Regions from separate parts of the Homo sapiens genome. Here all the other regions are linked to region 3. The links come from fine-mapping of genetic effects on gene expression. A gene starts in region 3. Each other region holds a variant in brackets. All regions are shown on one strand. Distances are between the middles of the regions. Region 1 has its middle 20 kb from the start of TMED2-DT. Region 2 overlaps TCTN2 (tectonic family member 2). Region 3 holds the start of TCTN2 (tectonic family member 2).

What was found. PIP is the estimated chance that this variant, and not a neighbour inherited with it, causes the effect.
Region 1: its variant is the best candidate, but not a certain one, in a credible set for the expression of TCTN2 in whole blood (TOPMed, PIP 0.68).
Region 2: its variant is the best candidate, but not a certain one, in a credible set for the expression of TCTN2 in whole blood (INTERVAL, PIP 0.67).

The regions. Positions count from the first base shown.
Region 1 is chr12:123,558,948-123,570,313 of GRCh38, reverse strand. No RefSeq gene overlaps it. Among named protein-coding and RNA genes, the nearest start is that of TMED2-DT, 20 kb to the left of the region's middle. The variant C/T (reference allele first, on the strand shown) is at 4,798.
Region 2 is chr12:123,698,201-123,707,032 of GRCh38, reverse strand. It overlaps TCTN2 (tectonic family member 2), which reads right to left. Exons shown (of 18, transcript NM_024809.5): 14 at 7,223-7,329; 15 at 2,345-2,501; 16 at 182-307; 17 at 1-48. Among named protein-coding and RNA genes, the nearest start is that of ATP6V0A2, 9.7 kb to the left of the region's middle. RefSeq lists a silencer at 7,249-7,424. The variant A/G (reference allele first, on the strand shown) is at 3,656.
Region 3 is chr12:123,665,199-123,676,564 of GRCh38, reverse strand. TCTN2 (tectonic family member 2) reads right to left here and starts at 5,452. Exons shown (of 18, transcript NM_024809.5): 1 at 5,243-5,452; 2 at 4,951-5,058; 3 at 4,433-4,509; 4 at 2,755-2,950. The coding sequence starts at 5,324.

The DNA.
Region 1 (11,366 bases), 110 kb after region 3:
TCTAATAATATCCAGTGATGGGAACGGGGGAAACAGGTACTTTCATACCCAATTGGTGGGGGAATGCATTAGAAATCATTTTGGAGGCTTTTAGATAATATCTATTAAGATTTTAACCAGCAAGTTCCATTATTCTAGGAATCTATTACAAAGAAATACAGTAAAATATGCCCAAAGGTATATGGGCAGGAAGGTTCATAGCAGCATTTTTTTTTTTTTCCAAGATGGAGTTTCACTCTTGTCACCCAGGCTGGAGTGCAATGGCGTGATCTCGGCTCACTGCAACGTCCGCCTCCCGGGTTCAAGCGATTCTCCTGCCTCAGCCTCCAGAGTAGCTGGGATTACAGGCATGTGTCACCATGCCTGGCTAATTTTTGTATTAATAGTAGAGATGGGGTTTTACCACATTGGCCAGGCTGGTCTCCAACTCCTGACCTCAGGTGATCCACCTGCCTTGGCATCCCAAAGTGTTGGGATTACAGGCGTGAGCCACCGCCCCCACACAGCATTTTTTTTTTTAAGAGACAGAGTCTCACTCTGTCACCCGGCTGGAGTGCAGTGGTGAAATCATAGTCCACTGCAGCCTCGAAATCCTGGGCTCAAGCAATCCTCCACCCTGGCTTCCCAAAGTGCTAGGATTATAGGAATGAGCTACTTACACCTGGCCCATAGCAGCATTTTTTATGACAACTAAAAAAATGGAAACAATTAAATTACCATCAATTGGAATCTGATTAAATTAACCTACTCTACTCTACTCTACTCTACTCTACTCTACTCTACTCTACTCTATTCTATTCTATTCTATTCTATTCCATTCCATTCTATTCTAGCAAGGTTTTGCCATGTTGCCCAGGCTGGTCTTGAACTCCTGAGCTCAAGCAATCCACCTGCTTCAGCCTCCCAAAGTGCTAGGACTACAGGTATGAGCCATGCCCAGCCTAAATTAACACTTTTAACACTAAAATGCAATACAGTGTAACTGTGGTAGTCACAAGATAATTATGGGATTTCTGGAAAATGTTAATTCATGGGCAGTATGGTCTGGTAAGGGAACACAGATTTAAAGGTAACATCACTACTTTCTTTCAATGTCAACAGTGGGGAGTCTGTAACTGTCTGTAACAGTGAAAGGTCTAAATGTGAGACATTTACTGAAGGTAAAGGAAGGTTCGCAGGATCCCCAGGCCTCTGGGATGGGCTCGGAGTCGGGAAGTAACGAACACAGACTGAATGGTGTAATCCAGATAGAAAATGCTACAGGAGGGCGAGGCCCGGGGGCTTATGCCTGTAATCCCAGCACTTTGGGAGGCCAAGGCAGGCGAATCACCTGAGATCAGGAGTTCAAGACCAGCCTGGTAGCCGGGCATGGTGTGTGCGTCTGTAATCCCAGCTGCTCAGGAGGCTGAGGCACGAGAATCACTTGAACTTGGGAGGCAGAGGTTGCGGTGAGCCAAGATCACACCACTGCACTCCAGCCTGGGCAACAAGAGCAAGACAACGTCCCAAAAAAAAAAAAAAGAAAAAGAGAGAGACAGAGAGAATGCTACAGGAGTATTGAAGGGAGGGCACTCTTTATTATTATTAATAATAATATTATTATTATTAATTTTTTTGAGACAGGGTCTCACTCTGTTGCCCAGGCTGGAGTTCAGTGCCATGATCACAGCTCACTGCAGCTTCAACCTCCCAGGCTCAAGCTATCCTCCCACCTCAGCCTCCTGAGTAGCTGGGATTATGGGTGCAAGCCATCATGCCCAGATAATTTTCTATTTTTGTGTGTGTGGAGATAGGATGTCCCTACGTTGCCTAGGCTGGTCTTGACCTCCTGGGCTCAAGTGATCCTCCCGCCTCCATCTCCCAAAGTGTTAAGATTACAGGTGCAAGCCACTTCACCCAGGCAAGGGGGTTATTCCTTTATTTATTTATTTTTTTTAACGGAGTCTCACTCTGTCACTGAGGCTGGCTTGCAGTGGCTCCAGTGATCTCAGCTCACCACAACCTACGCCTCCCGGGTTCAAGCAAGTCTTCTGCCTCAGCCTCCTGAGTAGCTGGAATTACAGGCATGTGCCACCACGCTCGGCTAATTTTTGTATTTTTAATAGAGATGGGGTTTTGCCATATTAGCCAGGCTGGTCTCGAACTCCTGACCTTGTGATCTGCCTGCCTTGGCCTCCCAAAGTGCTGGGATTACAGGTGTGAGCCACCACATCCAGCCTGGTTTTTTTTTTTTTTTTTTTTTTGAGACGGAGTCTCTCTCTGTTGCCCAGGCTGAAGTGCAGTGCCACCATCTTGGTTCACTGCAACCTCTGGAAGGGGGCATTCTTGATTATTGGATCCACGGGAGAGAATATTAGTGAAGAGGGAGAAACAATACTTAAAGAAAGATTTAGGAAATTAAAGTGAAAAGAAAAGGATAGTCCAGAACGTGAAGATAAAATTGAAGTATAATAAGAAAAGATTTCTTTTTCTTTTTTTTTTTTTCCTGAGACAGAGTCTCACTCTGTCACCCAGACTGGAGTGCAGTGGCGCCATCTCAACTCACTGCAACCTCCGCCTCCTGGGTTCAAGTGATTCTCTGGCCTCAGCCTCCCAGGTAGCTGGGATTACAGGCATGCGCCAACATGTCCAGCTAATTTTTTTTTAATTTTTTTTTATTTTGTTGAGATGACGTCTCCCTCTGTTGCCCAAGCTGGAGTGCAGTGGCACCATCTTGGCTCACTGCAACCTCCTGGGCTCAGGAGATCCTTCCATCTCAGCCTCTCAAGTTGCTGGGACCACAGGCGTGCAGCATCACATCCAGCTAATTTTTTTTTCTTTTTTTTTTTTTGTATTTTTAGTAGAGACGGGGTTTCACCATGTTGCCCAGGCTGGTCTCAAATTCCTGACCTCAAATGATCCACCCGCCTTGGCCTCCCAAAGTGCTAGGATTACAGGCATGAACCAACACACCCAGCCAGATTAACTGCATTTTAAGAAATACATGTGTATGGCCAGGCATGGTGGCTCATGCCTGTAATCCCAGCACTTTGGGAGGCCGAGGTGGGTGGATCACTTGAGGTCAGGAGTTCGAGACCAGCCTGGCCAACATGGAGAAACTCTGTCTCTACTAAAAATACAAAAATTAACCAGGTGCGGTTGCAGGCACCTGTAATCCCAGCCACTTGGGAGGCTGAGGCAGGAGAATCGCCCGGGAGGTGGAGGCTGCAGTGAGCTGAGATCACACTACGGCACTCCAGCCTGGGAGACAGAGCAAGACTCCACCTCAAAACAACAACAACAAAAACAAAAAATACAGGTGTGTAACCAGAATTCCAATCAAGATAGAATCATTTCCTTCACTCTAGAAAAGCTTCCTTGTGCCTCCTTGCAGTCAGTCCCCACTCCCACCTCCTACCAGGCAACCACTACTCTGCTTTCAATCCCTTGAACTTAGTTTTGCCTGTTCAGAAATTTCATACAAAAGGAGCCATACAGTGTGGACTCCTTTGTGCCTGATTAATTTCTCACAATGTTATAGCTGTGAGAGTCATTCCTACTGTTGCATTGGGAATTGCTTGTTACTTTTCATTGCTGCATAACATTTCGCTGTAAGAATTTATTTATCCATTCTATTGCTGATGGACATTCCCCTTATTTCCTGTTTTGGATGATTTTGAGCAAAGTTGTTGTGCGCATTATTTTCTGATTTCTGCTGGGTTTAAACCTAGCAACAGAATTGCAGGGTGATAGGGGAGGTGTATGCTTAGACTTAGTAGATACTGCCAGTGTCAACCTAAGTAACAGAGAGGCTTAATTTTTTTTTTTTTTTTTTTTGAGACGGAGTCTTGCTCTGTAGCCCAGGCTGGAGTACAGTGGTGCGATCTCGGCTCACTGCAAGCTCTGCCTCCCAGGTTAACGCCATTCTCCTGCCTCAGCCTCCCGAGTAGCTGCGATTACAGGCGCCCACCACCACACCCTGCTAATTTTTTGTATTTTTAGTAGAGACGGGGTTTCACTGTGTTAGCCAGGATGGTCTCGATCTCCGTGACAGAGAGTCTTTCTAAAAGAAGATGATATTTATTCAGGAATAGGACGTTGCAATGGGAATATGTGTGCCATACTAAAGTGTATGTGTATTCAAGGAAATAAAGGAAGACAAAGGTTTTTAAAGGAAAAATGAGGAGAACTACATAATTGTTTTGAGATAATTATCTTTGGCTACAAAGATCAATAATAAAAGTGCACCAGTCCAAGTTTAGATAGGCAGTTGCTGGGCAGATGTCTTCGAACGAGTATTTTTAATGTAAGATTGTGATGGCCTTTGTGCAAGGTTGTGGGTTTTGCAGGCTTTTGTGATAGTTTTTGTTATCTGGCATTCGTGCATGAGAATCCTCCCTTCATCAGCTTCCCTGGCTCTGCTCGTCAAGGTGATTTTGGTTTTTGTTTTGTAACACAGATGACTCCATTTTGATTCTGACAACTTTCACACCAGTTTTCCAAAGTGGTTTGACCAATTGCACTCCTACTAGCATTGTATGAGGGTACTGACATTGACAAGTTGGAAAACTGAAAAAGGGCTAGTGTGGGGCCAGTCACGATGGCTCACGCCTACAATCCCAGCATCTCGGGAGGCCGAGGTGGGCGAATCACCTGAGGTCAGGAGTTCAAGACCAGCCTGGCCAACATGGCGAAACCCCATAGCTACTAAAAATACAAAAATTGGCCAGGTGTGGTGGCGCATGCCTGTAATCCCAGCTACTCGGGAGGCTGAGGCAGGAGAATCACTTGAACCCAGGAGGTGGAGGTTGCAATGGG[C/T]CCAGATCGTGCCACTGCACTCCAGCCTGGGAGACAGAGCGAGAGTCCATCTCAAAAAAAAATTTTTTTAAACAAAGATGCGCCAGGCGCAGTGGCTCACGCCTGTAATCCCAGCACTTTGGGAGGCCGAGGCAGGCGGATCACGAGGTCAGGAGATCAAGACCATCCTGGCTAACACGGTGAAACCCCGTCTCTACTAAAAATACAAAAAATTAGCCGAGCGTGGTAGTGGGCGCCTGTAGTCCCAGCTACTCGGGAGGCTGAGACAAGAGAATGGCGGGAACCCGGGAGGCAGAGCTTGCAGAGAGCCGAGATCGCGCCACTGCACTCCAGCCTGGGTGACAGAGGGAGACTCCGTTTCAAAAAAAAAACAACAAAGATGCATGGCTGCGGGTGGGGCCCCCAGCATGCTCTGGGCTTTCGTCTCAGCGGCGGTGAGCTGTTGCCTTTAGCCTTTCTCCCCTGTGGCCAATTTATAGGCAGGAACCAAAGCACTGGGCAGATGAGTAGGTAACATGTTTTGGCCACTTTTCATGAAGTTGAGGGGACCAAAAATTAAGTGTAAACTTGCAATGCAACATTGTTTAAAATAGTCCAAACCAGAAAACAGAGTGAATGACCACCAAGGGAACAATGATCAAGCAAATTGCAGTACATACATAAAACAAAAGACTGCACAATCATTTAAAAGAATGATGAAGTGGGCAGATCACCTGAGGTCAAGAGTTTGAGACCAGCCTGGACAACATGGTGAAACCCCATCTCTAATAAAATACAAAATTAGGCCAGGCATGGTGGCTCATGCTTGTAATTCCAGCACTTTGGGAGGCCGAGGCAGGTGGATCACCTGAGGTAGGGAGTTCGAGATCAGCCTGGGCAATATGGTGAAACCCCGTTAGCTGGGCGCGGTGGCGGGAGCCTGTAATCCCAGCTACTCGGGAGGCTGAGGCAGGAGAATCGCTTGAACCCGGGAGGCAGAGGTTGCAGTGGGCCGAGATCGCGCCACTGCACTCCAGCGTGGGTGACAGAGCAAGACTCCATCTCAAAAAAAAAAAAAAAAATTAGCTGCCTGTGGTGGCACCTGCCTGTAGTCCCAGCTACTTGGGAGGCCGAGGCACAAGAATCACTTGAACCTATGAGGCAGAGGTTGCAGTGAGCCAAGATTGCACCACTACACTCCAGCCTGGGCAACAAGAGTGAAACTCTGTCTCAAAATAAAAAAAAATAAAAAATAAAAGAATGAAACAGGAATTATCTATTTTTAAAAAATAAGGTAGATCTATATGTGCTGAGCTGGAAAAATGATTATAGGGTATTATTAAGTGAAAAAAGCAAACTGCTTTTTTTGTATGTTTGTATGTCGTGTTTCCATTTTAAAACTAAGTGTATGTTTAGACATACAGTGTGTACAGATATGCAAATATTTATATTATCAGGAAAAGCATGGACCAAACTGTCAACAGTAGTTACCTAGGAGTAGAAATTAGATGGGAGGGATTTCTTTTAAATACATTATTTTTTCTCTGTTTTCACTCCAGCCTGTGTCTCCCAAGCTGGAGTACAGTAGCACAATCACAGCTCAGTGCAGCCTCGATTTCCTGGGCTCAAGCGATCCTCCTGCCTCAGCCTCCCAAGTAGCTGGGATTACAGGTGCACACCACCATGCCCAGCTAATTTTTGTATCTTTTGTAGAGACGGGGTCTCACAATATTGCTCAGGCTGGTCTCAAACTCCTGGGCTCAGGTGATTCTCCCGCCTTGGCCTCCCAAAGTGCTGGAATTACAGGCGCGAGCCACCATGCCTTTCTTTTTGTTTTTAGACAGGGTCTCCCTCTGTCACCCAGGCTGGAGTGCAGTGGCCTGATTACAGCTCACTGCAGCCTCAAACTCCTGGGTTCAAGTGTTCCTCTCACCTCAGCCTCTAGAGTAGCTGGGACTACTGGTGTGCACCACCACACCCAGCTTAAATACATAATTTTTCTCATGTTGGATTATGGAAATGGCAAATCCGAATCCATTCATCCCACCTGTGCCCCCCACCCCCAGAAATCACATACTTACCTTTCTCTCTGGCGCAGACAGCATCAGCGACGGCTCACACTGTTCCATGGTTATAAAGCTCTGCCCAGTGCCACAGTCATTTCAGCTCCTAACATTTCCGATTGTCTCTGAAGGTCAGGGGCAAAGAATTGCAGCCACCTCTGCATCCAAGACCGACACCCCCCAAGAGGGGCTCCACCTGCAAATGGGGGGAGGCTAATGCCCCAGGGGGAAAACAAATGAGGACGTGAAGGAGCTGGCGGATAAATTGTTCACCTCCCTCCCCATACCCACCACACACTTCCCATTGCTACACTCTGCACTAACAGAACATTCTGAGATTCACTGCTTTCCTACATCCTCTCCAGAGACACCCCAGAAGACCAGCAACTGGCTGAGTGCTGGTGTGAAGTTGGGGCTGCCTCTGGGATGCTCTGTCATGAACTTACACTACCTCCTTTTTTTTTTTTTTTTTTTTGAGACGGAGTCTCTCTCTGTTGCCCAGGCTGGAGTGCAGTGATGTGATCTCAGCTCACTGCAACCTCTGACTCCCAGGTTCAAGGGATTCTCCTGCCTCAGCCTCCCAAGTAAGTGGGACTACAGGCGCCCACCACCACACCCGGCTAATTGTTTTTATTTTTAGTAGAGACAAGGTTTCACCATGTTGGTCAGGATGGTCTCGATCTCCTGACCTCGTGATCCATCTGCCTTAGCCTCCCAAAGTGCTGGGATTACAGGCATGAGCCACCGCGCCCGGCCTGCTCCCCCTCCTTTTGTGCCTCCTTCCCTTTCTCCCTCACCCTCACCTCCCTGGCATTCTCCTCTCCAATAAAGCATTAGCTCCTAATCTTCACCTCAGGCCCTGTTTTCTAGGGAACCAAAACAAAGCCATGGGTGATTTCTACTTTTTAAATATTTCTCTTTAAATGTTTTTTCTTGGCCAGGTGCAATGGCTCACACCCAGCACTTTTGGAGGCCGAGGCGGGCAGATCACTTGAGGTCAGGAGTTCGAGACCAGCCTGGCCAACATGGTGAAACCCCGTCTCTAAGAAAAATACAAAAATTAGCCAGGCGTGGTGGTGGGCAACTGTAATCCCAGCTACTTGGGAGGCTGAGGCAGAAGAAACGCTTGAACTCAGGAGGCAGAGGTTATAGTGAGCGGAGATCACGTGCCACTGTACTCCAGCCTAGGCAACAGAGCGAGACTCTGTCTCAAAAAATAAGTATATATTTATCTATTTATTTACTTACTTATTTTATATATATTTATATATATTTATATTTTTCTTTATATATTTTATATATATATTTATTTACTTATTTATTTATATATAAAAATATATATATATATTTATTTACTAACTTACTTACTTAGTCTCTCTCTGTCGCCCAGGCTGGAGTGCAGTGGCTCAAACTCGACTCACTGCATCCTCTGCCTCCAAGGTTCAAGCAATTGTCCTCCCTCAGCCTCCCAAGTAGCGGAAACTACAGGCGCCCACCACCATGTCTGGCTAATTTTTGTATCTTTAATAGAGACGGGGTTTCGCCATGCTGGCCAGGGTGGTCTTGAACTCCTGACCTCAAGTGATCTGCCCACCTCGGCCTCCCAAAATGCTGGGATTGCAGGCGTGAGCCACTGCACCTGGCCAATATTTGTTTAAATTAAGAACTCAACCATTGGCCTGGCGTGGTGGCTCACGCCTGTAATCCCAGCAGTTTGGCAGGTTGAGGCGGATAGCTCACTTGAACTCACAAGTTCGATACCGGCCTGGGCAAAATGGTGAAACCCCGTCTCTCCTAAAAATACAAAAATTATCTGGGTGTGGTAGCATGAGCCTGTAGTCCCAGCTACTCAGGAGGCTGAGGTGAGGAGGATGGATTGAGCCCAAGAAGTGGTTGCAGTGAGAAAAAATCAGACCGCTGCACCACTGCACTTCCGCCTGAGTGACAGAGCCAGACCCTGTCTTAAAAAAGAAAAGAAGAACTCAACCATTAAGGGATGAGATTCTTGAAGCACAGAAGCACAGGTTGCATTAACCAGGTTAATGCAACTGTTATGGAAAAATCTACACAAATGTAGCATTAGCATTTACTGGTAATCTCTCTTCAGAAAGAAGCAGACATTGAAATTCAGCAAGTGTGCCCAATGCAGGTAAAATCCAGTTGCTAAGTTTCTTGTTTCCCAAGATGGGTTTTGGGGAGTCTGATCATATCTCTCATACAGTGTCCTTGGGGATGGGGTCTGGCAACTAAGGAGAAGGCAGTGCAGAACAGACCGTGAGTGCTAAATGACATTTCTGGTGCTTAAAGATGCCGTGATGGCCGAGTGCGGTTGCTCACGCTTGTAATCCCAGCACTTTGGGAGGCTAAGGCAGAAGGATTGCTTGAGCCCTGGAGTTCCAGACCAGTCTGGGCAACATAGTGAGACCCTGTCCCTATGAAAAATTTTTAAAAATTAAAAAACAATGCAGCCAGGCATGGTGGCTCACGCCTGAATCCCAGCATCTTAGGAGGCCAAGGCGGGTGGATCACTTGAGGTTAGGAGTTCGAGACCAGCCTGGCCAACATGGTGAAACCCCATCTCTACTAAAAATACAAAAATTAGCTGGGCATGGTGGTGCGTGCCAGTAATCCCAGCTGCTCGGGAGGCTGAGGCAGGAGAAGCACTTGAACCCCAGAGGTGGAGGTTGCAGTGAGCTGAGATTGTGCCACTGCACTCCAGCCTAGGTGACAGAGTGAGACTCTGTCTGAAAAAAAACAAAAAACAAAAAAACACAATGCAATGAGGACATCAAAATTAGTCATGACCCCCCCAAGACTGTCAAAGTGAAGGAGGAAAAGGAGGAGGAGATGGAAGAGAATAAACGAAGAGCCGCAGCAGCAACTGTGGAAAGTCACGAAGAAGTGTGTGGGTGGGCAGCTATTTCAGATTGCCAGGCCTTGTAATCTAGCCCTGGGACAGGACAGGTAAGGCAGGTGGCCTGATGACTGCTCAGACTCCTGAGAAATGTTGGTGCTCATGAGAGTCCCCTGGCCAGGCGCGGTAGCTCCTGCCGGTAATCCCAGCACTTTGGGAAGCCGAAGCAGGAGGATCGCTTGACCCCAGGAGTTTGAGCCCAACCTGGGCAACAAAGCGAGACCCTGTCTCTACAAAAAATCTAAAAATTAGTTGGGTGTGGTGGCACGTGCCTGTAGTCCCAGCTACTCAGGAGGCTGAGGCAGGAGGATCGCTTGAACCCAGGACTTTGAAGCTGCAGAGTCATGATCACCACCACACCCCAGCCTGGGAGACAGAGTAAGACCCTGTCTCAAATAAATAAATAAATAAATAAATAAATAAATAAATTTTAAACAAAAAAGGAGGCTAGGCACAGTGGCTCACTCCTGTAATCCAAGCACTTTGGGAGGCTGAGGCGGGCAGACCACTTGAGGCCAGGAGTTCAAGATCAGCCTGGCCAACATGGTGAAACCCCATCTCCACTAAAAATACAAAAATTAGGCAGGCATGGTGGCACATGCCTGTAGTCCCAGCTACTTGGGAGGCTGAGGCAGGGAGAATCGGTTGAACCCGGGGGGTGGAGGCTGCAGTGAGCTAAGATCGTGCCACTGCACTCCAGCCAGGGCAGCAGAGCGAGACTCCATCTCAAAAAAATAAAAATAAAACAACAGGAAGAAAGAGTCCATTGGCCACAGCACAGGCAAGCTACACTCAAGTACCTGCCGTCGTCTTTCTATTCCTAATGTGGTTTCTCAGGCCCCTGTGGCCTGATTTTCCAGGAAGCAGTGACTTCTCCTTCCACAGAATCACTGCTTCTCTCTGCCACATGCCCTGCCCTAGTGCCTCACAGAGGGAGGAACCATCTGTCATCTGTCCACAGCTCTTCCTCCTGCCCCTAACCATGGTGGTCCCCTGCATCTAGCCCTGAGATCCCCAGTGCTGTCCCTTAGAGCTCATTTTTTTTCTCCAAATCTGTTGGAGAAATCAACAGATCTCTGTTGGTGGCATCAAATCTTCTCTCTCTTTTCTTTCTTAATCTTTCTTTCTCTTTTTTTTTTTTTTTTTTGTCTCACTCTGTTGCCCAGGCTGGAATGCAGTGGTGATCGTAGCTCACTCCTGGGCTCAAGCAATCCCCCAACCCCTCCTCAACCTCCTGAATAGCTGGGACTACAGGCGCTTGTCACCACATCCAGATAGGTCTTTCTTCTTTTATCCATGGTAAAAGTAAGTCTTGTGGTCATTCCAGACATGCTAATACTTTGTCACTCCTTCAAGTCCATAGTTTTTGTTTGTTTGTTTGTTTATTTATTTGTTTTGACGGAGTCTTGCTCTGTCGCCCAGGCTGGAGTGCAATGGTGCAATCTTGGCTTGTGCAACCTCTGCCTCCCCGGCTCAAGCAGTTCTCCTGCCTCAGCCTCCCGAGTAGCTGGGATTACAGGCATGTGCCACCACACCTGGCTAATTTTTGTATTTTTAATAGAGGCGGGGTTTCACTGTGTTGGTCAGGCTGGTCTCAAACTGCTGACCTCAGG
Region 2 (8,832 bases), 32 kb before region 3:
CACACCTCATTTCTGTTGCAGTCATACTCTGTATAATTGATCTGGAATCTAGAAAACATTTTAGAGGGTTACAAAAACTACAAGTGAGAAGTATCAGAACTTGATTAAAGGAATAAACTTCCAATTTTCAAATATATATTTTTCTGCTTCCTAATGTCAACTAGGTGAGCAACTGGAGTACCTTGTCAGGGGGTGGGGTAACTGTGCAGGAATTTTAATAAACTGGACGGATGCACTGATAGGGAGAAGGTCGGCCTTGTGCTCACAGGTAAGCCCACACTGGTACTGCCAGTTCACTGAGGAGAACCTAGGAGGGAAAGATCACATGGTCAGCATAGCCACCATTCAGTTCTATTCCACCAAGAACAGCAGGTAACGGATGCAATCACAATATAACCTGAGGTTCTCCTAAGAAGTTTCGCATTCTACCTGGGCTGTTTTTTCTCAGTATTTGTCCATGGTCTTTGACCATTTCCACAGACAGATCCAAAGAGAAGAGAAACTCCTAATAACCCCTCATGGGCCTGTCGCCCAGCAACATCTGCCAGTCTTGTTGTCAGTCTCACTCCTCTCCAGCCAGTGCATTGTATACAGGTGCTATCAAAGGTACCTTTGTTCATCACCTGTTTTTCTCAAACAATATAATAATAAAAGCAGCAGCTAGCCACTTATTGAGGGCTTTCCACGTTCGAGGCACAGAGATAACTTGCTTGCAACACACCATCTCATGTTATCCTCAGAAGAGTACTGCGGAGGTGGTAACTGCACTCCCATTTTCCCTTGCAGAGCCACCACTCTCCATTTCCAGTTCAGTGGAGCAGAAGGAATTGGCCCTAATCCAGAGGTGCACCCATCACCTGAGCCTAGCCAATAAGAGCTGTCCATTGCCCCAGTCATAGGGATTGGTTCAGAAAGGAGCACATGACCTAAACTGAACCAATAAAAGTCTGCCCAGATCTATTTTGAGAAAGAGGAGGGGCCGGGCACGGTGACTCATGCCTGTAATCCCAGCACTTTGGGAGGCTGAGGCAGGCAGATCACCTCAGGTTGGGAGTTCAAGACCAGCCTGACCAACATGGAGAAACCCCATCTCTACTAAAAATACAAAATTAGCCAGGCGAGGTGCCACATGCTTGTAACCTCAGCTACTTAGGAGGCTGAGGCAGGAGAATCGCTTGAACCCGGTTGGTGGAGGTTGCAGTGAGCCAAGATGGCACCACTGCACTCCAGCCTGGGCAACAAGAGCAAAACTCCGTCTCAAAAAAAAAAAAAAGAAAGAAAGAAAGGAAAGAGGAGGAAAGGGGCTTTCTCCCCACTGGACTTGCTGCAGTGACATAAGCCTGGATTGCTGGTGCTGATCTTTGCCATCTCTTGAGGAGAACCTCCCTGAGAATGAAGCCAACCCAAAGGAAGAGGAGCTGAGATACGAAAACAAAAAGATCCCTGACCACACTGGAACCATGAACCATGAACTAGCTGTATGTGGATTACTCTGAACTTGAACCAATAAACTCCCCTTTTTGCTTAAGTCAGTATGAACTGGGCGCCTGTCACTTAAAACCGATGGAGGCAGGCTGGGCGCGGTGGCTCATGCCTGTAATCCCAGCACTTTGGGAGGCCGAGGCGGGCGGATCATGAGGTCAGGAGATTGAGACCATCCTGGCCAACAGGGTGAAACCCTGTCTTTACTAAAAATACAAAAATTAGCTGGACATGGTGGCACGTGCCTGTAATCCCAGCTACTCGGGAGGCTGAAGCAGGAGAATCGCTTGAACTAGAGAGTTGGAGGTTGCAGTGAGTCAAGATATTGCCACTGCACTCCAGCCTGGAGACGGAGCAAGACTCTGTCTCAAAAAAAAAAAAAAAAAAAACTGATGGAGGCTTGATACATAAAGGTATTATCACCATATTACAGAGGAGGAAACTACAGCTCAGAAAGGTTAAGTAATTGGCCAGTGTCACACAGCTCCTAAGTAGGACAGCCATGATTTGAACCTATCTGCTGCCAAAGTCTCTAACCACAGACAATATTCTCTGATCAGATTATCAGTTACATCCATGGATTTCAAAATATACTTAGTACTAAGGGGCCCTTTATTCATCTTTGTACTCCCTAAAATAACTTGCAGACTCTCTTACATATGGCTTTATAAATACTTGTGAGAATAAGTCTCCATTATACACATAGTTCGTACATATTCCATATGTGCATATAAACATCTTGCTAATAATTGCAAGTTGTAAATAAACAATCAGTTTCTAAATAAACATTTCCCTATTGTTTGGGATGCTCTCAACTTTCCTGACTCTCTCTAAACTACGGTGATCCAAGATGTGATCATACCTTGTCTCTACACCGAGTATCTCCTGCTGAGTAATCCCTTCCACCGCGCCAGCATCCGAGATGAGGATGCGGATGCTCAGGTGAGCAGGAATATCCAGGCACATGCCGTTCACACTGCTAGCCAGCGGGTCTGCACCTGGATCAGGGGCATCTACACCTATAGAAATGTTAAGTTATACACTTTTCAAAGAATAATTTGATAAGTTTTCCTACAATGTCGTAATAACCAAAATGGGGAATAATATCAGGCAGGCATCACATTAATGAGGCTTTAGTCTCTTACAGGCTCTAGTTACTTGTCACTCCATAACTGTGTTATCCCTTAAAGTCTACAAGGCATAGGATGGCACTAATAAAAATTGTGTTTAAAATGTTTCCTTGTATGGGCCGGGTGCGGTGGCTAACGCCGTAATCCCAGCACTTTGGGAGGCTGAGGCGGGCAGATCACGAGGTCAAGAGATCGAGACCATTCTGGCCAACATGGTGAAACCCCATCTCTACTAAAAGTATAAAAATTAGCTGGGCGTGGTGGTGCTCGCCTGTAGTCCCAGTTACTTGGGAGGCTGAGGCAGGAGAATGGCGTGAACCTGGGAGGCGGAGCTTGCCGTGAGCCAAGATCACACCACTGCACTGCAGCCTGGCGACAGAGGGAGACTCTGTCTCAAAAAAAAAAAAAAAAAAAAAGTTTCCTTGTATGTTAGCCAGTCACTGGAACTTAAAAGCCCTGACCCACATATTAAAGCCATAAATCATGATTCAGTTTCCAAGCTCCCACTGAAATCTACCCAGCCTTTTAACAGAAACATATATAATTGCAGTGAAATGCCATCGTTATTCCATGCAGTCACAGTTCTAGTAAAAGCTGTGTAAGACATTTAAAATCCATACTAACAACTTTAGGCCAGGCACAGTGGCTCATGCCTATAATCCTAGCACTTTGGGAGGTCAAGGTAGAAGCACTGCTTGAGCCCAGGAGTTTGAGACCAGCCTGGGCAACATAGCAAAACCCTGTCTCCTCGAGAAAAATAAAATAGCCAGTCATGGTGGCACACACCTGTAGCACACACCAGCTACCCAGAAGGCTGAGGTGAGAGGATTGCTTCAGCCTGGGAAGTCAAGGCTGCAGTAAGCCGTGATGGCATGGCACCACTACATTCCAGCCTGGACAAAAGTGAGAACCTCATCTCAAAAAATAAAAATAAAAATCAGTCGGGCGTGGTGGCTCACGCCTGTAATCCCAACACTTTGGGAGGCTGAGGTGGGTGGATGACCTGAGGTCAGGAGTTCGAGACCAGCCTGGCCAACATGGTG[A/G]AACCCTGTCTCTACTAAAAATACAAAAATTGGCCAGGTATGGTGGCGCACACCTGTAATCCCAGCTACTTGGGAGGCTGAGGCAGGAGAATCACTTGAAACCTGGGAGGTGGAGGTTGCAGTGAGCCGAGATCATGCCACTGCACTCCAGCAACAAAGTGAGACTCCATCTCAAAAAAAAAATAATGATAATAATTGAAAAAAAAATAATAATAAAACAAAATCCACACTAACGACTTTAATTAGTATGTATTAGATAGGTAAGTAATTTCCTAATGTGTTACCATAGTATTAATACAATTGGAAGAGAATGAAATTGAATGAGAAATGAATTTGCATTCGTCTTGGAGAAAACCCAGCAAGGTCAATTGGAGGAAGTAGGGTAGGTTCTATGGCTCCTCTGAAGGGGGTTCTTTGCTCCTTCAGGGATTCCGAAGGTCAGTAACACTGTTTTATGTCTAATTTCCTTATACATGTGTCAACACCACTTCTCTTCTGCTTATTAACCAGGATCAAGGTTGCTTTTTGGCTCAGACATGAAATAAAAGCTAACCCCTTCCACCTTGAAGGCAACAAAATGTCATCACCACACTGATTTCGTACCTCATCAACCTGGGTTCTCCGTCTGGACATTTTCCCTACCGTTTATTTCCCAACTGCTGACTTTTCTCCAGCCCTCAGGGTCATTCCACAGCCTATCTAGCTGGCCTGGGTGGCAGAGCCCAGGGCTTGACAAGCTCGACCTCTGGGTTCCGTTTGCAAATGAGGATCTAGGTCTGGGCCCAGTGCCTTGAGCACCAGCTAGATGAGCAAACAGCAGCCTGAGTGCCCCGTGGGGGTGGAGTCCAACAGGACTCCCTCCCCAAGTCAGAGAGTGGTCTGGGGCACCTCAAGCTCACAGACATATCACATTATCCATGACCAAGAGGGGGAAGGGAGGGTCCTCATCACCATGACCCCAATCACAAGGAGTAGGCACAATACAGGTGTGTGTCTGTATGGGCCGTTGTGTGAATTCCAGCCTACTGAGCCTAGCTGACCTCAGAGGAGATGGAAAGGGTAGGGACAGGATCCAGAGGGCTGATCCCTACCCACCAGGCAGAGGAGAGGGGCAGAGCAGCATCTGCAGGGAGAGCTGGGCAGGGGCAAAGCAGATGCGCACACTCATTGGGCTCTTTCTGGTCCCAAAAGGCAATTCCATTAATTAGCTCAATAAAAAAAGCTTTCCATTCAAAGTATTTACAGACTCAAGGCTCCCCAAGAAACCGGGAAGTTACCTAACTTGCTACCAGGGAACAGAGGAAAGAGGTTGGAACCCCAGGTTTTCATTCTAGCTCTGCCAAAACTCACTGTGACCTTAGGCCTCTCCAACATAACCCGATGAGCTGGATCTCCATGACTCAAAGGATATTTTGGATTCAGAGGTGAAATCAGGCCTGATGAAGAAGCTTTAAAGTCTGGTTTACCTTTATTCCATGTACATGTGGTATATCTTTTTCCCTTTGTGTACGAGCTACTTGCCAATTCAACACTGCAAATACCTTTGGCCAGAGGCACTGAGCTGTCAAGTCTTTCTATCTGGCCCCCATGATCCCTGCTATTATTAGATCTGTTGCACCCTTTTTTTTTTTTTGTGAGACGGAGTCTTGCTCTGTCGCCCAGGCTGGAGTGCAGTGGCGCAATCTCGGCTCACAGCAAGCTCCGCCTCCCGGGTTCCTACCATTCTCCTGCCTCAGCCTCCCGAGTAGCTGGGACTACAGGCGCCCACCACCACGCCCGGCTAATTTTTTTTTTTTATTTTTAGTAGAGACGGGGTTTCACCTGTGTTAGGCAGGATGCTCTCGATCTCCTGACCTCGTGATCCACCCGCCTCGGCCTCCCAAAGTGCTGGGATTACAGATATGAGCCACCGTGCCCAGCCGATCTGTTGCACCTTAATTACTTTCTTTCCTGACAGCTTTATTGAGATATAATTCACATACTATACAATCCACCTACTTAAAGTGTGCAATTCGATGGTTTCTGGTATAGTCACAAAGCTGTGACTATCAGCAGATTCTATTTTAGAACATTTTATCACTCTGCGAAGAAATCCTTTACCCACGGCAGTCTCTCCCCATTTCCTCCCAACTCCTCCACCTCCGGCATCCACTAATCTGCTGTCTCTATACATTGCCCATTCTGGACATTGCATATAAATTGAGTCATACAATATGTGGTCTTTTGTGTCTGGCTTCTATCACAATATTTTCAATCACTTTATTTTCTTTTAAGTTAACAAAATTACCTTTATAAATTACAAAGTCAATTCTCAAATGCCTGTATTCCTGGCAATCAAAAACAGCAATGCAAACTGAAGTGCACTAACAATCTTCAAACCTTGCTTGGACTTTGTTTTAATGTATTTTATTTTATTTTGTTTTATTTTTAGAGTCAGGATCTTGCTCTGTCATCCAGGTTGGAGTGTGATGGTGTAATCAGAGCTCACTGTAGCCTCAAACTCCTAGGCTCCAGCGATCCTCTTTCCTCAGCATCCCAAGTAGCTGGGACTGCAGGGACATGCCACCACATTCGACTAATTTTTTAAATTTTTCATAGAGACAAGGTCTCACTATGTTGCCCAGGCTGGTCTTAAACTCCTGGCCTCGGCCTGGCACGGTGGCTAACGCCTATAATCCCAGCACTTTGGGAGGCCGAGGCAGGTGGATCACGGGGTCAGGAGTTCGAGACCAGCCTGGCCAACATGGTGAAACCCCGTCTCTATTTAAAAAATACAAAAATTAGCCAGGTGGTGGTGGGCGCCTGTAATCCCAGCTACTTGGGAGGCTAAGGCAGGAGAATCACCTGAACCTAGGAGGCAGAGGTTGCAGTGAGCCGAGATTGTGCCATTGCACTCCAGCATGGGTGACAAGAGCAAGACTCCGTCTCAAAAAAAACCAACCAAACAAACAAAAAAACTGGCCTCAAGCAATCCTCTTGCATTGACCTCCCAAAGTGCTGGGATTATAAGTGTGAGCCACTGCTCCCAGCCTAGACTTTCTTTCACAAAGACTGTTGTTGGCCAGGCGCAATGGCTCATGCCTGTAATCCCAACATGGTTGGGGTTTAAGAGGTTGGGGTGGGCAGATCACTTAAGCCCAGGAGTTAATGACCAGCCTGGGCAACATGGCGAAACCCATTTCTACAAATAATAAAAAAATTAGCCAGATGTGGTGGCGCACACCTGTGGTTCCAGCTACTTGGAAGGCTGAGGCGGGAGGATCCCTTGAGCCTGGGAGGATGAGGAGGCAATGAGCTGTGATTGCACCACTGCACTCCAGCCTGGGTGACAGAATGAAACCCTGTCTCAAAAAAACAAAAACAGAAAATCAAAAAAGTCATTGTGAATAAGAAGAAAAAGACATGCCAAGTTTCCTGCCTGGAGATCTAACCCCTGGGCAAACGTCCAGTTAAGCCGCAGTCAAGCCTCAGGAAGATGACCTACTGGGTTGGGCTCTAATGCTGCGACTACAGTTGGTAGTCACAGCAACCAAGTTACAGGCTTTATTGTACCCGGGTTTGACTTACGTATTATTTCGAGCCAGCCATCACTAAGATCAGCGTAATCGGAGTTGCCTCTCATTGCAACGTGAGTCGCTTGTATTAATGAATCAAGTCTTTCAACAGCATTCTCCCTGCAAGAGAGTAAGACATTTCTCAGCTCATGGCCAGCAGGTCTTGTCCTAAAGTCATTTCCAGTGAATGTCCGGGTTTCACTTCCGAGTGCCTAAATTAAAAACTGCCAGAGGAACTGGCATTAAAAACTGGCTGGGTGTCACCCATGGACTAGGTGTGTCTGATGGCCTTCCCAGGATGGACCCACACACCTGGGGGAGAACATACAGAAGCAATCTTTTACTTTAGACTTAAAATGTTAGTAACTTGGCCGGGTGCAGTGGCTCACACCTGTAATCCCAACCCTTTGGGAGGCTGAGGTGGGAGGATTGCTTGAGCTCAGGAGTTCAAGACCAGCCTGGGCAACAGGGCAAAACCCTGCCTCTACAAAAAATACAAAAATTAGCCAGGCATGGTGGTATGCACCTATAGTTCCAACTACTTGGGAGGCTGAGGTGGGAGGAGCGCATAAGCCTGGTGGGGTTAAGGCTACAGTGAGCTGAGATCGTACCACTGCACTCCAGCCTGGGTGACAGAGCAAGATCCTGTCTCAAAAAAAAAAAAAAAATGTTAGTAACTTAAGTTGGGAATCACATGGTTCACAAACTCTGCCGACTGTCACCAAACTTAGGAGGTAGTTAGAGCACACATCAAGTTAGCAGGATACATTCGTGGGCCAGAGTGATCCAACAGTAAAAGTAACCTATATATCTAGCTGGAATTTTGAGTCATAAAATTAAGTGAAGACTAAGAGTTGGAACGTAGCATTCCCTCCTTCCCAGTACTGTCACTGGAGGGTACAAATCTCATGAACTGCAGGAGAGGGACTCTGCCCATGGACTCAGGCCTCAAAACCTATAATCAGGAGCTGCTGCCAATAATTTATACCAGTTTTCCTTAACTTCTCAATGTTACCCCCATTTCTTCCTGCTTCCCAAAGAACTACACATCTTGGGATATGTAACAGATAAAACGTGTGTAAGAGTGCATGCAGGCCGGGCATAATGGTTCATGCTTGTAACCCCAGCACTTTGGGAGGCCAAGGCAGGAGGATCGTTTGAGCCCAGCAGTTTGAGAGCAGCCTGAGCAACACGGTGAAACCCCATCTCTACAAAAAATACGAAAAATCAGCCAGGCACACACCTGTACTCCAAGATACTCGGGAGGGTGAAGTGGGAGGATCACCTGAGCTCAAGAGGGTCAGGCTGCAACGAGCCGTGATCACACCACTGCGCTCCAGTCTGGGTGATGGAGTGAGACCTTGTCTCAAAAAACAAGCCAAAAAGAACGCATGCAATCAAAACCACAATGAGATACCACTTAGTATCTATTAGGATGGCTACTGTCAAAAAAAAAAACAAAAACAAAAAAACAAAAAACAAGGCTGGGCACAGTGGCTCACACCTGTAATCCCAGCACTTTAGGAGGCTGAGGAGGGCAGATCACCTGAGGTCAGGAGTTCAAGACCAGCCTGACTAACATGGAGAAACCCCATCTCTACTAAAAATACAAAATTAGCCAGG
Region 3 (11,366 bases):
ATGGAGTCTCGCTCTGTCACCCAGGCTGGAGTGCAGTGGTGTGACCTTGGCTCACTGCAAGCTCCACCTCCCGAGTTCACGCCATTCTCCTGCCTCAGCCTCTCGAGTAGCTGGGACTCCAGGCACCCGCCACCATACCCGGCTAATTTTTTGTATTTTTAGTAGAGACGGGGTTTCACCGTGTTAGCCAGAATGGTCTCGATCTCCTGACCTCGTGATCCGCCCACCTCAGCCTCCCAAAGTGCTGGGATTACAGGCGTGAGCCACCGCGCCCGGTCTTTTTTTAGAGACAAGGTCTTGCTCTGTCGACCAGGCTGGAGTACATGGAGCAATCCTGGCTCACTGCAGCCTCCACCTCCTGGGCTCAAGCGATCCCCCGACCTCAGCCTCCCTCATAGCTGGGGCTACAGGCACCGACTACCACGCACAGCTAATTGTAGTATTTGTTTGTAGAGACAGGGTTTTGCCATGTTGCCCAGGCTGGTCTTGAACTCCTAGGCTCAAGTGGCCCACTCACCTCAGCCTCTAAAAGTGTTGGGATTACAGGCATGAGCCACCACCTGGCCTCAAGCATATTTCTCAAAGGAAAAAAGTCAGTGCTTTGAATGGTACAGCTATCATGAATCCCTTCTGTTGTTTTGGGGGGATTTTTTTTTTCATCATTGAATACGGTTTTTTTGGCTTTGTTTTGAATTTTAAGCCATAGAAAAATTTAAAACTTTTAAGTGGGTAACACATTTGCATGGTTCCAAAAAATCAAAAGCATATTAAAAAATTCCTCACTGTCAGCCCTTTCCTGTTCCCACATCATCCTCCAACTTGGTAGCACATTATTAGCTTCTCCAACATCCTTCCAGAATTTCTTTATGCAAATGTTTTCATTTCTGCCTCCTTTATGCAAAAGATAGCACACTGTAGGCAGCCATCTGCACTTGCTTTTTTCACTTCATTCATCATGGAGGCCTTTCCATGCAAGTACACTGAGGGCACAGTAGTCTGCTGAAAGGAGCTGTCAAAACTTGTCTTATCATCCTAAACTTCCAGAAGCACCAGGAGGACCACAGTTAGGGATGTAATAAGGGAAGCGGCAGTAAAGGAGTCTCCAGGTAACAGACTTTTGCTACTAAAGTCTGGAACGCTTCTCCCTCCATGCCACGTGGCCATAAAGGCAAGAGATGTCAGAGTTCGCCACCGGAGACAGGGGACATGGCAGTAGCACTCATCACTGCAGAGCCCTCTACATCGGCACATCTAGTTGAAAGCTCTTTTGGTTTAAGAACACTAACATCATGTGAGACGGAGATGAACACAAAACCATTTTCTCATGTCCAAAGATTCATGTACACGGGCATAACGATCTTTGCTGTAGCATCAAAAGCTGGGAACAGACCAGGTGCAGTGGCTCCTGCCTGTAATCCCAGTACTTCAGGAAGCCATGGTGGGAGGATCACCTGGGCCCAGGAGTTCAAAACCAGCCTGGCTAACATAGTGAGACCCTGTCTCTACAAAAAATGTAAAAACTAGCCAGGTGTGGTGGTGCACGCCAGTAGCCCCAGCTACTATGGAGGCTGTGGCAGGAGGATCGCCTGAACCAGGAAGGTTGAGGCTGCAGCAAGCCAGGATCGTGCCCCTGCACTCTAGCTCCAGCCTGGGTAACAGAGTGAGACCGTGTCTCTAAAAAAAATGAAAATAAAAATAAATTTTAAAAAAAGCTGGAAATGATGTAAACTTCATCAGCCTCAAACTCCTACGCTCAAGCGATCCTCCCACCTCAGCCTCCCTAGTAGCTAGGGCTACAGGCAGGCACCATCATGCCCAGCTTTTTAAAATTTTTTATAGAGACAGTATCTGCTGTGTTGCCCAGGTTGGTCTCGAACTCCTGGGCTCAAGAAATTCCCCCGCCTTGGCCTCCCAAAGCACTTACAGTGTGGGAGCCACTGCGTCTGGCCACCCTTCCTTTTTTCTTCTTAAGATGCAGTCATGACAATCAATGCACGTGCCGAGCACAGTGGCTCACGCCTGTAATCCCAGCACTTTGGGAGGCCGAGGCAGGCGGATCACAAGGTCAGGAGATCAAGACCATCCCAGCCAACATGGTGAAACCCCATCTCTACTAAAAGTACAAAATTAGCTGGGCGTGGTAGCGTGAGCCTGTAGTCCCAGCTACTCGGGAGGCTGAGGCAGGAGAATCGCTTAAGCCCAGGAAGTGGAGGTTGCAGTGAGCCGAGATCACAACACTGCACTCCAGCCTGGTGACAGACTTAGACTCCATCTCAAAAAAAAAAGAGAGAGAATCAATGTACATAAACAAATTTCACCTTCTCCCAAAAAGGATTCAAGGTAGCTTATAAAGATGCAAACAGTAGAGAAAGATCAAATAAATGTTAAATAAAATAGTACAAAATGAAATTTCTTAAAAGAAAACTAAACAAAAGAAAAATAAGTTTAGAAAAGCAAGACAGACTCAAGTGAAGTATACTTTACAAATTGCATGGCATACACTTATAATCAAACAGGTAAGCTTGACACAAATTTTTCTTTTTTTGTTTTTGTTTTTGGTTTTTTTTGAGACAGGGTCCCACTCTGTCACCCTGGCTGGAACGCAGTGGCGCGATCACAGCTCATTTGTAGCATTAACCTCCCGGGCAGCTCATTTATAGCATCAACCTCCCGGGCTCAAGCAATCCTCCTACCTCTTCCTCCTAAGTAGCTGGGAACAACATGAAAGTTTTGACAGTCAAAGACTTCACTTGCCTGAGGCATTATGGGTCAGAGAAGAGTTGGCATAAATTTCCACTTGAATGAGTAGATGTGCTGAACAGGATGAATTATGAGATGCTGAAACCAGAAGGGTCTGGAGGATACAGGGGGACTCTGAGAAGGAATCTGTCTCATTGGAGGAACACCAGTCCAGACCTCTCTTCCACCTCACTGTCACTTCCAACACCTTCTGAAAGGAAAACATTGCTGTATTTTTAAAGTGACTCAAAACAGGGTCTATAAGAATACATAATGGAAAACACAATAAAAGTACACATCAGCCTCCGTTCATTTTATAAAAGGGAAATGTATACAGAGATGACACAGTTATCTTCAGTTCCCCCCCATAAACCTATGGTAACATGCAAGCCCTGATTCTTCTTCCTTAACATAAAAGCAAACAACTTCGGGATACTTAGAGAAAGCTAAACACAGATCTGATAAATAAACTCAGTTTATTGTACACCTTTTTAGTTTCTTTATCATCCTATCAGTGGAAGAGTAAATACACAAAAAAAGTCAATGAAAACAATCCTCAGTTTATCCCAGAATGACTTTAGACATGTACATGTTCACTCCTGGGGTACAAGCAGAGCTTGTCTTTCCTGTCCTTTTCTCTCCAGAATTGATGTTGCATATACTAGGTATCCAATAAACACTTATTAAATAGAAGATGCTTAATCTCTCCAGGTTTGAGTATCCTTACACATAAGCTCAGAGTTGGGCAAGATCAGTGGTTATGAAGCTTTTTTTTTTGAGACGGAGTCTCGCTCATCACCCAAGCTGGAGTGCAGTGGCGTGATCTCGGCTCACTGCAATCTCTGCCTCCCGGGTTCAAGTGATTCTCCTGCCTCAGCCTCCAAAGTAGCTGAGATTACAGGCACCCGCCATCACGCCCAGCTAATTTTTGTATTTTTAGTAGAGATGGGTTTCACCATGTTGGCCAGACTGGTCTTGAACTCCTGACCTCAGATGATCCGCCCTCCTCGGCCTCCCAAAGTGCTAGGATTACAGGCGTGAGCCACCGCGCCTGACCAGCTTTTTCTTTTTTTTTAAGAGACAGGGTCTTGCTCTGTTGCCCAGGCTGGATGAAGTGCAGTGGTGCGATCATAGCTCTCTGCAGCCCTGAACTCCTGGGCTCAAATAATCCTCTTGCCTCAGCTACCCCACCCCCCTCCAAGTATCTGGGACTGTAGGTGTACGCCACCCACCTAATTTTTTTTTTAATTGTTTTGTAGAGACGAGGTCTCGCTATGTTACAGGCTGGTCTGGAACTCCTGGGCTCAAGCAATCCTCCCGCCTCAATCTCCCAAAGCGCTATGAGTACAGGCGTGAGCCACGATGCCTGGCATAAAGCTTTTTTGAATCACTGACCCATTTGATGATCTAAAGGAAACTGGTGACCCTCTCATCAGAAAAATGCACATACACACAGAACTTTACATACAATTTCATAGAGTTCACAGACCCACTGAAATACATCCAAGGACTCCTAACCCCAGGGTAAGGAACCCGTGGGCTGGATAAGTGTCTACCAGATCCAACAGCCCACAATTTCATGATTGTTGAGAGCATGGAGAAAGCCATGCCTTGTTAAATAAAGAGAGCACTGCAGAAACCCTAGCTGGGGGCCTCTTCACAGGCTACAGAGAAGGTTTACTTCTGGCCTTACCGCACCGGGGATCACAGTCACGCTCCAGTCTTCCGTCTCATTGTTCAGCACTCCACACGTCGGAATTGGCAATATTCCTAAAGAAAGAAGACCAGCATGCAAAGGCAGCAAGGTCCAGCAGCTCAGGGGGTGCATTGAGTCAGACTGCCTAGGATGGACTCACATTACAGCCTAAGATTGGGCCCTTTACAAGCTGCTTGACACTGGGACAGTGACAACCTCTCTGAACTTGTTTCTTCCTTGGTCAAAGGGGATGAAAAGATATTACTGTTCTTACTAGGAAAATGGGATGATGCACGATGTTAGCTCAATGAATGCTAACCATTATTATTTCAGGCTTTCTTCGAACCTGTCCGTCTGTCCTCTTTGGCCTACAGCAGCCGCCCGATCCTTTTCTCCCCATGCGACTTTGCAGAGAACAGAGGCAGGGGGCCCCAAGGATGCCACCTCTCCAGGCTCCTTGGGAGGTCTGGATCCAGTCCAACCCCCACCCTCCCCAAAAGAGGGCCGGACTTTACCCGCCTCGTCCTGCAGCACTGCCAGGGACACGGTCACACCCTCGGTGTCTCCGACCAGGGACGCGCTGACCGCAGGGCCGGACATTCGGATAAAAGGAGGGATGAAAGCTAGGCGGGAAGGAAAGGGGACAAGGAGGGGTTAGCAGTGGAAGAATCACCGCCTAAGGTGTGTGTGGCGGCTTGCTTTGGCGTTGTCGACTCCCGAAGCTCCCGGGGGAGTCCAAGTCTGGCCCTTTTAACGCCCAGTCCCCTCAGCCCCGGCCCACCGAGGTCACTGCCGCGCCGTACACACCCAGGTCCCCCCACAGAAGCCTCAGGATGCCCTGCAGAAGGAAAAGCCTCAAAAGAAGAGCGGCCGGAGGCTGGAAGCCCATGCCTTAGACCTCGCGGGCCGGGCACAGCAGAACCGCGCCCTCATTAGAACCCAGGAAGGACTCAGACACGAAAACGCAGCAGCCACTGCCCCGCCGCCGCCATCTTGCAAGCGAACGCCCGGAGCTATGGCAACCACCAATCGGCGGCCGGCCAGGAGGAACGCCGCGCTGTGATTGGACCAGTGGCAAGAGCGGGCACCCCGGCCCCGCCCACAAGGCCTAGCATTTTTGCTGCTTGACTCTGGTGGGGAGAGTGAGGGCTGAAAAACTACCTATCCGGTGCTCCACTTAGTACCTGGGTGACGAAACAATCTGTGCACCCAACCCCCGTGACACGCAATTTACCTATATAGCAACCTGTACATGGACCCCTGGGCCTAAAAGTTGAAAACATCAAAATTAAAAAGGTCCTGAAAAGCAGGAGTGCGTGTCCGGCTCAAAAACTGGAGTTTTCCCCTACCCTGGAATTAATCCAACAATAGCCAAGAGCGATCCTATAGACACTGGCTTCTAAATAAAAAGGGTGGGACTTGCTCCTTAATAAACTTGATTTTTATACGGATTTGTTTTAGGGGTGAGTAGAAAAAGGGGATGGGGCTGCCGCGCTGTGTTTATTATCTTTACTATCGTTTATGATGTATTATTTATATTTTATATTTTTATAAAATAAATATATATTTACAAAATAGATATACTTTGTTTTATATATATATATCAGATATACATACTTGATATATATAAAATACATATAGGCCGGGTCTGGCGGCTCATGCCTGTAATCCCAGCAATTTGGGAGGCCGAGGCGGGCGGATCACAATGTCAGGAGTCTGAGACCAGCCTGATCAACATGGTGAAACCCCGTCTCTACTAAAAATACAAAAAATTAGCCAGGCGTGGTGGCAGGCGCCTATTATCCCAGCTACTCAGGAGGCTGAGGCAGGAGAATTGTATGAATCTGGGAGGCGGAGGTTGCAGTGAGCCGCGATTGCACCACTGCACTCAAACCTGGGCGACAGAGCCAGACTCCGTCTCAAAAATATATTTATTTATTTATTTATCTTATAAAATATATATGTATTTATATTTTATCTTATATATATTTATCTTTTATATAAGTATATATTTTGTAAATTTTATACTTATATGTTATAATTTTATAAAATTTATATTTTTATAATTCTTATCATTATCATTTATTATCACTATTGCTTTTATTATCATTCTCCTAGGTTTTTGAAGGATTTTCTCCCCTGCACAGAGCTCTCAGCACTCTGAAAGCAGATCCAATCACAGAACACACAAGAGGTTTTGCCCAGCAATAGGACAGATGTGAAAGAATCAAAATTCTGTCTGGAAAAAAATTGTTTTTTCTTATATCAGTAGCCTCAGAACATTTCAAATATTGTCACGGCTTGGGGACTGAGAGTGCAGGGTCTGAGGTCAGGCTGCCTGGCATGGGATTTCGCCTTCCCTCCACAGATATTCTCAGCTGTTAAGTGACTTTGGGCAAGTCAACCTCTCTAAGTTTCAGCTTCCTCATCTATAAAAAAGGGATGATAATAATCCTTCCTTGGGGATTGTGTGAGGATGAAATGAGGTAACATATCTAATGAGGTTAAACCAATGGCTGGCATACAGTAAGCACTCAGTTAATGATCAGTTACTTGTTAACTATCAGAGAGGTGGTGTATCCTTTAGCTGAGACAATCATGGTGTTCAGCATTGTGGCTGACTGACGGTAAATGCCAAGTAAATGTTTGCCATTATTAGTCTTTTTTTTTTTTCTTTTTGAGACAGGGTCTCACTCTGTCACCCAGGCTGGAATGGTGCAGTGGCACAATCATAGCTCACTGCATCCTCAAACTTCTGGGCTCAGCTGATCCTCCCACCTCAGCCTCCCAAGTAACTGGCAATACACCACCACACCCGGCTAATTTTTGTATTTTTTATAGAGACGGGGTTTCACCATGTGGCCCAGGCTGGTCTCAAACTCCTGGGCTCAAGTGATCCTCCTGCCTTGGCCTCTAAAAGTGCTGGGATTACAGGTATGGGCCACCGTACCCAGCCCCATTATTACTCTTAATGTTCAGTTATATATTCATTGATCAGCAAATCTAACATTGTGAAAGGATTCTGAAAGTTGAGGCTTTATAAGGGCCTGACACTGGGTGTTATCTTTTTCTTATACTCCCTGAAAAACTGTGGGTCACTACAGTTGTAACATGAGCATGAAACTTTTCCCGTGTACCTCAGCTCCTCTCTGGAAGACTGCAAAATGTTTACCTCTCTTGATATCTTGGAATGAAGCCTAGGAGAACGTTACTAAGAGGAAGCTGTCAAACACTTAAATATTTCTGTTATTCCCCATCTGTCTTTGGGGGGAATTAATCTGCAAATTAAGTTGGCAAGGCCAAGCGGTAAAGATTAAGAGATAAATCCTCCCAAAAGAAAACATTTCTGGGCCGGGCTTGGTGGCTTATGCCTGTAATCCCTGCACTTTGGGTGGCAAAGGCACATGGATCACTTGAGGCCAGGAGTTCAAGACCAACCTGGGCAACACAGAGAAACCCATCTCTACCCAAAAATACAAAAATTATCTGGGCGTGGTGGCGCATGCCCGTACTCCCAGCTACTCGGGAGGCTGAGGCAGGAGAATCGCTTGAACCCAGGGGTCGGATGTTGCAGTGAGCCGAGATCGCGCTACTGCACTCCAGCCTGGGCAACAGAGTGAGACTTCATCTCAAAAAAAAAGATAGAAAACACTTGAAGCTGGTGATCAGCAGCTTCCCGATAAGATCTCAGGAGTTGGGCAAGCAGGCTCATGCATACATAGTAAGAGGCAAGATGGCAGATTTTAACTGGTATATAACCTTCCTCTGGGAAGGCTCGACTGGTAAAGGAAAATGCCTCAAATGAGCATGCGCACAACTTCAGTAAACACACTGCACATGCGGCCCCTCCCAAGTGCTGGCAGGCCACTGACATGCAGACAGCCCACCCCAAGGAAAAATCAAGGGAGGGCACAAACCTCAGAACCATGCTAATGTATAGAAACCCCCAGTGAAGGGTCGGACGGGGCACTTGAATCTCTCAAGTCGCCCGCTTGGCCCTCTTCCAAGTGTACTTTACTTCCTTTCATTCCTGCTCTAAAACTTTTTAATAAACGTTTACCCCTGCTTTAAACTTTGCCTTGGTCTCTCACTCTGCCTTATGCTGCTTGGCCAAATTCTTTCCTCTGAGGAGGCAAGAATCGAGTTGCTGCAGACCTGTACAGACTCGTCACTGCTAACGGTGATCCAGGGAATTCTCCAAGATCGTACCCAAGATCACCAAGGTGGCACCTCTACAAATATGTAAACTATTCATATCTTGAGTAGTAGACTAAAAGGCAAACCTATCAAAAATAATAACTACAGCTTTTTAAGACATAGTATAATAAGATATAAATATTGTAGAAACAAAAAGTTAAAAATCAGAGGGATGAAGTTAGAGTATTAGTTTTCTCTGCTTGTTTTTGCAATCAGAGTTGTCATCAGTTTAAAATAATGGGTTATAAGATGGTATTTGCAAGCCTCATGCTAAACTCATATCAAAAAGCCTACAACAGATACACAAAAATATAAAGCAAGAAATTAAAACATACCACCAGAGAAAATCACTTTCATAAAAAGGAAGATGGAAGGAAGGGAGGAAGGGAAGATCAGAAAACAAATTTAAAAATGGCAGTAGTAAGTCCTTACTTATAAATAATAACATTGAATGTAAATGGACTAAACTCTCCAATCAAAAGACATAGAGTGGCTGAATAGATTTAAAAAAAAAAGACCTAATGATTAGCTGCCTATAAAAACTCTTCACCTATAAAGACACACATAGACTAAAAATAAAGGGATGGAAAAAGATATTCTAATGGAAACCAAAAAAGAGCAAAAGTAGCTATATACTTATATCAGATAAAATAGATTTTAAGACTAGGTGTGATGGCTCATGCCTGTAATCCCAACACTTTGGGAGGCCGAGGCAAGAGGAACCCAGGAGTTGCTTGAGCCCAGGAGTTCAAGACCAGCCTGGACAATACAGCAAGATGCTATCTCCACAGAAAAAGAAAAAAAAGAGGCCAGGCGCAGTGGCTCACACCTGCAATCCGAGCACTTCGGGAGGCCAAGGTGAGTGGATCATCTGAGGTCAGGAGTTCAAGACAAGCCTAGCCAACATGGCGAAAACCCATCTCTATTAAAAATACAAATATTAGGCTGGGCTCGGTGGCTCATGCCTGTAATCCCAGCACTTTGGGAGGCCGAGGTGGGAGGATCACGAGGTCAGGAAACTGAGACCATCCTGGCTAACATGGTGAAACCTCATCTTTACTAAAAATACAAAAAAATTAGCTGGGCATGGTGGCAGGTGCCTGTAGTCCCAGCTACTTGGGAGGCTGAGGCAGGAGAATGGCGTGAACCCGGGAGGCAGAGCTTGCAGTGAGCTGAGAACACACCACTGCACTCCAGCCTGGGCGACAGAGCGAGACTCTGCCTAAAAAAAAAAAAAAAAAAAAATTAGCTGGTCGTGGTGGCAGGTGCCTGTAATTGCAGCTACTCGGGAGACTGAGGTGGGAGAATCACTTGAACCCGGGAGGTGGAGGTTGCAATGAGCTGAGATCATGCCACTGCACTCCATCCTGGGTGACAGAGTGAGACTCTGTCTCAAAAAAAAAAAAAAAAAGTGGTAAAGAAGGTCATTATATAATAAGAGGCTCAGCAAGAGAATATAACTATTGTAAACATATATGCAGCCAATACTGAAGCATTCAGATATATAAAGCAAATATTATTAGGGCTAAAGAAAGAGATAGACCCCAGTACAATAACAGTTGGAGACTTCAACCTCCCACTTTCAGCATTGGACAGATTATCCAGACAGAAAATCAACAAGGAAACATCAGACCTAATTTGCACTATAGACCAAATGGACCTAATAGATATTTATGGAACATTTCATCTAATGGCTATAGAATACATTCTTCTAAGCACATGAATCATCGTCAAGAATAGATCATATGTTAGGTCACAAGTCTTTACAAAAAAAAAATAATAATAAGAACAAGCATCTCTCTCTTTTTTTTTTTTCTTGAGATGGAGTCTCACTCTTGTCCCCCAGGCTGGAGTCCAATGGCACGGTCTTGGCTCACTGCAACCTCCGCCTCCCAGGTTCAAGCGACTCTCCTGCCTCAGCCTCCTGAGTAGCTAGGATTACAGGTGTGCACCACCACGCCCAGCTAATCTTTATATTTTTAGTAGAGACAGGGTTTCACCATGTTGGGCAGGCTGGTCTTGAACTCCTGACCTCAGGTGATCCACCCACCCGGTTTCCCAAAGTGCAGGGATTACAGGCATGAGCCACCATGCCCAGCCCCAGATCAAGCATCTTCTCTGATCACAATGGAATAAAATCAGAAATCAATAACAAGAGGAACTTTGGAAAGTATACAAACACAAGGAAATTAAACAGCATGCTGCTGAATGATCAGTAGGTCAATGAAGAAATTAAGAGTTGGATTTTTTTTTTTTTTTTTTTTGAGACAGAGTCTTGCTCTGTCACCAGGCTGGAGTGCAGTGACACGATCTCAGCTCACTGCAACCTCCGCCTCCCGGGTTCAAGCAATTCTCCTGCCTCAGCCTCCTGAGTAGCTGGGACTACAGGTACCCGCTACCACGCCCAGCTAATTTTTTGTATTTTTACTAGAGATGGGGTTTCACCATGTTGGCCAGGATGGTCTCATTTTCTTGACCTTGTGATCCGCCCACCTCGACCTCCCGAAGTGCTGGGATTATAGGCACGAGCCACTGCGCCCGGCCATTAAGAGGGAAAATTTAAAAACTCCTTGAAACACACGAAAATGGAAAAACATACCAAAACCTATGGAATACAGCAAAAGCAGTACTAAGAGGAGACCTTATAGCAGTAAGTACCTTTATCAAAAAAGTAGAAAAACTTCAAATAAACAACCTAATGATGCTTCTTAAAGAACTAGAAAAGAGTAAACCA